Regions from separate parts of the Homo sapiens genome. Here region 2 is reported to be linked to region 1. The links are microRNA targets in miRTarBase. Many come from high-throughput screens and were not tested one by one. Region 1 holds a microRNA gene; the other region holds the end of a gene's coding sequence.

Region 1 (5,074 bases):
GAAACATGCCCACACTCTCAACCTGGCCCTCATTTATTTTGCCTTCGTAATATCAACCACACCTGAGCCCAACCAGAGACCTGGGTGCTGGGCGCCAGTCACAAGCCCTGGTCTTTCCAATTCCAGAGGAGCACTGGGAATGGCGCAGGCCTACAGGCCCACGGCAGCGTGGACGCAGGGTCAGCGGGTGCTGTCTGTATCAGGTGTGACTGCTGCCCTGCGTTGCTATTCAGTATTAGTCCGGCTGGTTGGGTTGGGGAGGAATGGGCAGAGAAATCAGCCCAATGAGCCTCCCCTCCTCTTTCCCTAAAAGTAACAGCCACGGGCTCTGGAGAACACGGTGTGAAAACCACAGGAGGGAGGCAACCCTCAGGCCTTTGCTGGCTGTAAGGCAGTGATGCTACTGGAGGGGAAGTGGGAGGCCTGTGAAACGCCCTGCTCCGCTCAGTCAAATCTACCCACGCCCCCAGGCAGGAGCCTGTGACCGGCTCCTGGGTCACCTGCTAACACCCTGAATCTGACCAGGCTGTTCCTGCTGAAATTCCAAACTCCTTCACAGACAGTCCACAAGGCTCCCAGTGAAAGGGCCCTGCCTGCCCCGCAGCCCCAGGACTCATCTCCTCCCTGCTCCCTCGCTCTGCCAAGCCACACAGGCCTCCGTGAGGCTTGTCCCTGCACCTCACCAAGCTCTGTCCTCCCTTCAGACCTTTGCACTGTGGTTCCCTCCACCTGGAGGGCTGTTCCTTCTCCTCCCATCCCACATGACTGCCTCACCTTGCCAAACTGGGATCAGCTCAGAGGCCCTCCCCACAGCCGCATGCATCTAAAGAAGTGCCCAGTCTGTCACCTGATTTGAATTCGCTGCCTAGCTCCTCCCCCTCTAACCGGCTCCTTGCTTATTAACCTGTTTCGGGTTGGTCTTGCTTAGCCCCACAAGGATAGGGACTTTGGCAAGTACACTGCTGTATTCCCAGTACTGATGCAACGCTGGCACATACGAGGTGTTCAGTAAATGGTGGCGGATGAGTGAAACCTTTTCCTCGGCTCCACAATACCCTTAGGATCCATCCTCACCTCTCACCCAGGCCCACAGGCCAGTGCAGCACAGCCCCTGCCAACCCCTGCAGGCACTTCTGCTGCTCCCCCTGCCCAGGCCCAGCCTTCCTGCCACTCCCAGAGCTGTGAGCTGTGGTGGGCTGGGAACCAGGGGCAGTGGCATGCACCTACGGTCCCAGCTACTCAGGAGACTGAGGCAGGAGGATCACTTGAGCCCAGGAGTTCAAGACTAGCCTGAGCAACATAGCGAGACTCCCGTTTCCACAAAAAATTTAAAAATTAGCTAGGCATGGTGGCATGCACCTGTAGTCCCAGCTACTCAAGAGGATGAGGTGGAAGGATCACTAAAGCCTAGGAGGTCAAGCCTGCAGTGAGCTGTGATCACACCACTGCACTCCAGCCTGGGTGACAGAGGGAGGCCCTGTCTCAAAAGAAAAAAAAAAACAAGCACAGAGCCTGACCTCTGAAAAGACTCCAGTGTGTCTACCTTGGAGGCGCTCAGGGCTGCAAAGCCACTGCGTGGAAGAGGAGTGGGCCCGGGAGCTGCCCTTGTCAGTTCTGACTTGATTGCATGTCTCCCCCGACCTCTGTTTCTGCATCTGTAAAACTGAGATGCTAATTTCAGCCCTGATCTCCTCCTAGTGCTCTCTGACACGGTTCTGTGAACTGGCAAAGGCCTTCAAAGTCCCGGCAGAAATACTAAGAATTACAATTGCTAAGACAGACCAACAGCTCACCATGTGTCGGGCACTGTTCTTAGTGAGGAGACATTTCCGGTAGGCTTATTGTATGCCAGAACAGTTATGAATGCTTCCCACAAATTAATCCACTCAGCCTTCACAATAATCCTATCAGGTGGGAATTATCATCATCCCCATGGCACCGATGATGAAATGAGCTCACAAGGGTTGGGGAGCCTGCTCAAGGTCACACAGCCATGGAGTGGCACGGCTGGATTTGAACCCTGTGCTCTCACTCGCTTCCATACACCTCTTTACAGAGGCTGGAAACCAGAACATTGAAGTTCTGGATCCTAGCTGGGCCAGGCTGGGGAGCTGGATCCCGGAATGCTCGAGGGGACCAAAAGTAGGGGGTGGGGGAGGCTGGATGCCTCCGTTCCATAACATAATCATGACTGCCAACCAAGACTTACACAGTACCAGGCACCATTCTAGGAGCTTCTCGTGGATTAATTCATTTAATCCTCACAACAGCCCAAGGTGGACGTCCTTCTGAGACCACTGTATGGGAGTGAACAGTGTGGTCCAAGGTCGCAGAGCTAGAACCGACTTCACCGTCCTGCTGCTAGCTAACGCAGGTCCCTGGTAGCTGTGTCACCCCCTGCATGGCTCTCTTGCTGTCTTCTTCTCCCAGCACACACCTGCCCAGGGTTAAAGGATGCCTTGCCTCCACTCTGAGGAGGGACCAAGAAATGCTGGACTGGCTGTAGGCAGAGATGCTCAGGGCAGCCTGAGGCTCAGGGGTAAGAGGAAGGAAAGACATAGGACAGTCACCTCTATAGGTAGAGGACAGAGGACAGAGGTGACTCTATCCTATGTCTTTCCTTCCTTTCACCCAGCCTGGAACCTGGTGAGCAAGGAATGCATGGCACTAGGGGCTCAGTGACCTGGGTTCAAATCCTACCCTGGCACCCATAGGGTCTGATAAGATGCGGTGGAAGGCAATTCTTCCTCTGAACTTCAATTTCGGACTCTGCAAAAAAGGACACAAATACCATATAAAGCCCAAAGCACAGGGCTGGGCAGAGTATATGCTCACAGACAAAAGCCACTCCTCCAGTTTCTCCTTGACAAGACGATCTGAGGCCAAGGTTGGCCAAGGGCTCACATCACACCTCTCCCACTTCAGCTATGAGACCTCTGGGAAATCTTTGCACTTCACAGTGAGTGAAATGATTCCTCATCTGTAAAATGGTATCACACTTCTAACTAGCTCGTAGCTCTCCATAAAATAGGCCTAACCACAGGTATGTTTTGAGACTTAAGTGAGATCACATGTACAAAAGCCCTGTCACACGCCTGGCATGGGGTGAATGCTATAAACACTGGGCATCCACTAGCTCTGGAAATGATCTGCCTCTCTGAGATGCTGTTTTCTCATCTAAAAGGGAGAGCATAACAACAGCGCCTACCGCTCTAGAATTCAAGTATTCAGCAAGTTTATCTATATGAAGCATTCCAAACAGTGTGTGGCCCACAGAATGCACTCAGTTACTGTCAGCCATCAATTTCATGATTACTGTTTTCACTGCCACTGTTAGCCCCATCAGGCAAACCCTCTAAAAGCTGGCAGGAGAGGACCAGAGGAACAAACCCCTAGTGGAGAAAGATTCTACAGAGTCGCCGCTGCCTCACAGACTGTGGGACCTTTCTCTCCAGGAACCACGAGCCACGGAAGCCAGTCAGCTTGGAAGTCACTGCTGCGGACTAGGGGCAACCATCTGCCCCCTCTGACCACATCACCAGCCCAGGTCTGCTGGGTCAATCAGGGACTGCAGCCAGTCCTCTGGGAACTCCAGACCCAGAGCAAAGGCTACAGGGCAAGCCAAGGTCATGATCTGGCCTAGGGAGCAGGGACACTGGCCACAGACCTCTGGGGCTGGCTGCTCCCAGCACCAGCCCACAGACCACAATAAGACACCAGATCCATGGGGGATCTGACTGTCCCAAGCCCTTCAGAGCAGCCTTCCTCCCTGGGCCAGGCTGGGCCAGGGGCACCCCCACTCCAAGTCCCCTTGGCCTATGCAAAGAGGAACAGCTGGGAAAACAGCTCCCGGCCTCACTGCAAGGCCAACTGTTACTGCCTTGGTGGGGAGTGTAAACATGATGTGTGACCGAGCTGGTAACTGGGAGACACAAACAGCTTCGTGGCCAGCGACAGAGGAGCATGTAGTGGTCTGCGTTGGTTCCTGGACCCTTCACATCCACTGCCAACCAAGTTCAGCCCACGAGTGAACTCCTGCTGCTTCTCTGGGAAGGTAGGAGTGGATGAAGTTGAAAAGCAGCCCATTGGAGGCTCTAGTTACTCCAGCCCAGGCGTCTTGCTGAGCCCCAAGAGGTCTCCAAATGAGAGGAAGAGGTCCTCACAATCCCAAGATCAAGATGCCCCCAGAGAGCTTCCCTGGGGGGAAGAGGTGTTCCCCCAAACACTCCTTCCTCCCAAGTTTTAACAAGCGGGTGCAGGGGCACGGCTCCTCAAATCCAAGCCCAATCCCTCTTCCTCTTCAGAATGTTAAGGCTCAGACAACTTCAGTGACTTCTAACACAGCTTTCCTCCCTCCCCTATGGAAGGAAAGAACTGTTACTGCCTGGTAAATAATCTGAGAGGGTAATGGAATCCAGAGCAGCACCTCCATGGTCCAAAGCACCCCAGTAACCATGACGTTCCCTCCAGAGTCGTTAAGAAGTTCAATAAAGGCTGAGATCAGTGTAAACCCCCAACGCCACACACGTCAAATACAGGAAACAGAAACCCCTCCTCACCAATCGGCATCACAGTCCTCCCAAAATACGCCCCTAAAACCCACTAGGGCCTGTCCCGCCCCGTCCCAGTCCCTTAAAGATCACAAACATCACAGTCCTCTGATTTGGGTTCCCCTACGTTCTAAGCAGGGCTCCCCCAACGCCGTGGTGATATAACCCAGCCACAGTTGGGGAAGCATCCTCCCCAGAAGCCCCCACCCCTGTAAATACAGCACAGCAACGGCTTCCACAGCGCCAAAAAGGTACAGCCCTCTACACTTGATGCGGCGCGCCCCCTCGATAGCTTAGCCCGCGCACGCCAGGCTCGATCTGCCCGCCGCGCCCGAAAGGTCCAGCCCCCGGCCCGCGCACGCTGCGGCCTGCGCTCCCCGTCCCGCAAACTTGCAGCGCTCCCCCCACCGCCTCAGTGGTATGGCCCGCCGCCACCGCCCCGGCCCCCCGAGGCTGGTCCCACCGCCCCCGCTCGGCCACCCCCACTCAGCTCCTGAAGGAGGGGCTCGAGGGCCGCGGTCCCC
Region 2 (5,070 bases), not on the chromosome of region 1:
TATTTCTCTTAAATAGGAGAAAGATTTTCAACAGCTTTTCCTCCTTGACCCCCTCCTTTCCCAATTTATTTGGGTCACTACCTTGAATTTAGAGTGAATCTGGGAAATGTAGTCACCAGGTAACCCAGCAGGGCCATATACTTGGGCTTGGAGGTGAGGTTAGAGGTTACTGTCTAATACAGTAGGTCTGGTTTCTATGAGGAGCTCATATCCACTTGCATAAGGAAACCTAGTCTATCCCAAATCACCTCCACCACAACTTCTATTCCTGTCTATTAGACCACTTCTCTTAAACCCGAGGAACCTGATGATTTGGGGGCAGGGATAAAACCATTATTTTATAAATGTGGCAGGTATGGCCTTCGTAATTCTAGAAGCTCCCGTTTAGGTAACAGAAACAAAATTTAGATGTAAGCATAAACTGCAGTTATTTGAGCAAACCAGAGCATATGTGCTGTTCAAATCCCACTTCACAATATACTTCAATCTCACCTCCAATGAATTCTCTTCCATAAAATAAACCATTCCACTAAGTATATACCTACTCCCACCAAATCATCCACATGCCTCATCACTAAAGTTGTCCCTTGTATAATCTACCAGCAAAAAGACAAAATAAAACCTGTGTTAAGCAAATAATCACTTAAACAGTAATAATATTGCCTCTAAATTAAAGGTAAGTCAGGAGCTGAACACTCAACTGTTAACTCTTCTGGGGAAGAAGAAAATTTTTCCCACAAAAGCAGGAGTGCAGTAGTAAGTAATGACTTTCTCTCAGATTCAAGTAACATCAGGTCAAGATAACCTTTGCTGTTAGAGTTTTGTTTGCATGGTGTGGAACTGCTTTATAAACTGAGTAGAGACGTATGCCAAAATTATTTTTAACCTAATTAAAAACTTTCACAGAAAACTTGAAGTGACTGATACTTTATCACAACGAACTGCCATTTAAACACTAGCATAGGTACACAAAAAGATTTATACTATGGTTTTCTTGGCTTTAAGCCATTAGAATTAGACAAAAGCAACCGAGAGTAACATTCTAAAAGTGGCTTCAACTACTTTAAAGACATGAGTCAGTTTTTGTCAGGTCATTTAATGGTTTCTTTCCTTCACAAAGCCACTAAATGCCAGAGTCAACACAGATCCCTGAGCCATAGCTCTTCTCTGAGGGGAAACAGGGTTATAATCAGTCACAACATTGTGGAAGACATTAAAAAAAGAAGGCAAAGTTCTGTATAATTTTCAAGACTCTTGTAAGTAGTAACACACAGCCATAAGCAGCCAAAATGCTTATGGTCCCTTTATTTCTTAATAGAGGGCTAGAACCGTTCATTTGGGGTAACACACTAATCTGGTGTTAAAAGAATTTCATGTGTTCTTGAAACAAAGGCATACTGCCACTGCTTCAAAAAAAGCCTTTGTGAAATGAAGAAAAATATGACAAACACAGGTTCCCACACGTACACATACATACAAAGGAACCTGCACACTTGCACACACACAGGCAGGTATAGGCACACAGTTCCACCAAAGCGAAGTCCAAATCAGAGTTCTTACCGATTCTACCACTCTGTAATACTCTCAGAAGTTCCCACAACTGCCCAACACCTCACCTACCCGTTTCCTGCTGCACAAAGTCTCCTTCACTCTCATCTTTTCGATACATCGTCAGGCAGGGCAGAAGGGCACTACGCCGCAGAGCATTCGAGGCTCTCAGCACACTGCCAGCCAGCGTGAAAATGCGGCTTCACTACAGCCCAGAGAAAAGGGCCAGGTTTAGTCATCGATCCAGATGCATTTTCCCGGGAAATGACCATTCCCAAACCCACAGAACAGTTTGGCTTCTCTGGATATCCTTATAGGAAATAGGGGTGAGAGGTGGGAAAAGCTTCTCAATCTCATACAGAAACAGCACAAATATTTAATACACCTTTTGCAACAAGATCTTCTCTGTTCTCCATTAAGCATCATGTAAATCTCACTAGTGTGGTTAACAAAATGGCTTTCCCCAAGGACAGAAGTCAAGAGCTTGTGGGGCCATATATTATCTAGTACTAGGCCATTCATTATCTCCTAGATTAACTCTTTTTTTTTTTTTTTTGAGGTGGAGTTTCACTCTTGTCGCCCAGGCTGGAGTGCAGTAGTATGATCTTGGCTCACTGCAACTTCTACCTCCAGGGTTCAAGTGATTCTCCTGTCTCAGCCTCCTGAGTAGCTGAGACTACAGGCACATACCACCACACCCAGCTAATTTTTGTATTTTTAATAGAGACGGGGTTTCACTATGTTGGCCAGGCTGGTCTCAAATGCCTGACCTTGAGTGATCCACCCGCCTCGGCCTCCCAAAGAGCTGGGATTACAGGTGTGAGCCACCAGGCCCGGCCTCCTAGATTAATTCTTGACATTTTTTGGATCAAGTAAGAACCACTGGAGCCTTTCCTGGAAAAAAGAACACATACTCAGTCTCACACACAATTTCTGGGGGCTCACAGACCCTCTTGAAGCCTATCCATAAACCCCCTGGTGAAGTCCCCCTGCCCGATAGCCTGAGGGAAGACATGTGAGTGGATATATGTGCACTAACAGGGGCGAAGACAGACCTGGATGGTCTGCAATCCCAGAGAGCATGAGGCACCATGTCCCAAAGCTTGGTATGTGGCCCTGGGCTCCTCCCCCAATTTTATCTCTCTGAAGAAGCTGAGTTTTTTTTTTTTTTTTTGAGACGGAGTCTCACTCTGTCACCAGGCTGGAGTGCAGTGGCACGATCTCAGCTTACTGCAATCTCTGCCTCCCGGGTTCAAGCGATTCTCCTGCCTCAGCCTCCTGAGCAGCTGGGATTACAGGCGCCCACCACGCCCGGCTTTTTGTATTTTTAGTAGAGACGGGGTTTTGCCATGTTGGCCAGGCTGGTCTGCAACTCCTAGCCTCAGGTGATCTGCCTGCCTCAGCCTCCCAAAGTGCTGGGATTACAGGCGTGAGCCACCACGCCCGGCCACGTTCTGAGTTTTGAGGATCCAGAAACAAAAGGCTGGAAAGCGACACTTCTACAGGTTTACTGATGAGTCCGGAGAAAATCCAAAAACAAAGCCCCACTGAGGGTTTGTGAATTTGGCTGTTCTCAGTGGCCAGGCAGAGTCTCTGCTCCACTCTTCTTTCCCAGCTAGCAGGGAAGTGAAGGCAAAGAACTGTCTCAGAAACAAGTCTCTAGGAAGTCTGCTTGAGGTCCTGAAAACTGTATTCAGATGCTTTATTCTAACCCCCTCTCCCCCACCATCTTAGTTGCTGCAGGGGGGTGGAAAACACCCCGTGAGCCCAGAGGAATATTCGATGGCTGCCATCGGTCTAGGCACGGCCATACAGTGGGAGAGATGGAGGCTGGCAACTGAACAAACCAAAAGGGTTCAAACCAACATTAGGCTTGCAGGGTCAGACACTAGAAAGGAAGATAAAGGTACACCTCCAGTTCAACAGCCTGACAGGATCTGTAACAGGTAGTGCCCAGGTTCAACAGCAGATGTAAAGGTAGACGTTAGGTCTACGCACTGCCTCACACTGAGCTTTCTATCCACATTTACAGAGATTTACTAGAAGTGGTGTCTGTAAGGACTTGTCACTATGTGATTTGCTTCCTGAATTCCTAAAAGATAGTCAGCAGAGCAGCCACTGTTTGTCAAAAATCTACTGTGTCCTTTAGCACTTAAAGCCAGCTCTATCTATAAAGCAAGAAAACAGTGACACACACTGCACATAATTGTTAAGAAAGAAAACTATTTGCTTCCAGTTTAAATACCCAGCTATTACAAATGGAGAAATTAAAACTGATCCTCAAAGTCTGGCACTTAAACAAACTTGTACTTAAAAGCCTGACTATAGGTTTAAACCATCATAAGAACATAAATTAAAAATTGCAAACTGAAATCAATAAAATATACATATGATTAGGGTCAAACTGGGTAACCAATTAGGATCTGTATCTTCAATAAACATCTGGAGAACGCAAATAGCATATATCACTATATGCCATGCTGTCCCAGAGAAGTATGGTTCCTTAACATTTGTCTAAATCTATTTAAAACCTCCAGCAAGAACTTAAAAGTGTAATTTATCATCCCATAGAGCTGCCCAGACTTATGCTAGGGGTATGCCTGGCTAGTAACCACTTTCTCCTTCCTTACTTCACCAAGAAAGGGAAGAGAGTGGCCTGTGTGGGGGGCCAATGTGAAAATAGTTCAACTAATGACTTCCCAACGTGGGAGGCAAAAAACTTCATGAATCAATTTTGCTGTCATCTTCAGCATGTCGTTCAATATGTCCTGCAGCATCCTAGGAATGAAGGGAAAAGGGCCCATGAGAGAGAAGTCGATAGTAAGACAGGAGAAAGTCAAAGCCAAGGAAAGCCATGTGGGTCCATTCCACCTAGGATCCAGACAGGAAAGGCAGTTAGGAGCCAGCACTTTGCTAACTTACGTGAAACCATGTACTTAAAGGTGAGCTGTTGTCTCAGCACAAGAGCACTGTAATAAATCTCCAGGTTCAGTTACTGGATTTGAAACATCTGAAAACATTCTCTTTAGGCCCTTTCTCAAAAATGACCTAATTCTTCATTTGCAACTTCATTAAGCTACCCCCCAAATCTCTGAATCATAAAAATAAAAAACCCTAGGCCCTCCCTATATATGGCAATTCTCAATAATAAAAAAGGTTTGCTAGCCCCTGCTCTGAGCAGTCTACTGAATCCCAGGCAAACCTCAAGTCCCACTAATGTACCTGTTTGGATCCTTTCCTAGCAGTGAAAAAAGCATCGCAGTTCTTCCAGCGACATTTCAGAGTCTGGAAGTTGGGATTAGTGTGGTCGGTCAGCAAGTGTTGTTTTAAATGATCTACAACGCCAAATATCAGAGAGCAACCATGCCACTGGAGAGAAAGAAAATGAGGAGACTCGGTGAAAAAGGGTGCAGTGAACGTGAATCAGAACAGCCCCCAGCTGGATCCCATAAGCACTATGGAAGCAAAAAGCCAGCCCCTTATTTCAAATTTATTCTTGGCTAGAAAAGACAACAAAGCCAA

Evidence for each region. Region 1 holds the annotated microRNA hsa-miR-641 (AAAGACAUAGGAUAGAGUCACCUC, at 2,596-2,619, opposite strand). A microRNA usually pairs through its seed, bases 2 to 8, with sites in the 3' UTR of a target mRNA and lowers its output. Matches are read on the target gene's strand: a 7mer-m8 pairs with bases 2 to 8, a 7mer-A1 pairs with bases 2 to 7 and ends in A, and an 8mer does both.
Region 2: miRTarBase lists ZNF106 as a target of hsa-miR-641. Seed matches in the 3' UTR shown: 7mer-m8 at 2,557-2,563, 7mer-m8 at 1,208-1,214 and 7mer-m8 at 1,067-1,073.

Annotation. Positions count from the first base shown.
Region 1 is chr19:40,280,008-40,285,081 of GRCh38, forward strand. It overlaps MIR641 (microRNA 641), which reads right to left and starts at 2,634; the gene lies at 2,536-2,634. All of the region lies in intron 1 of AKT2 (AKT serine/threonine kinase 2), which reads right to left. RefSeq lists enhancers at 532-581, 622-741, 4,363-4,502 and a silencer at 4,873-5,074.
Region 2 is chr15:42,413,035-42,418,104 of GRCh38, forward strand. It overlaps ZNF106 (zinc finger protein 106), which reads right to left. Exons shown (of 22, transcript NM_001366845.3): 21 at 4,771-4,917; 22 at 1-4,326. The coding sequence ends at 4,270. Among named protein-coding and RNA genes, the nearest start is that of CAPN3, 56 kb to the left of the region's middle.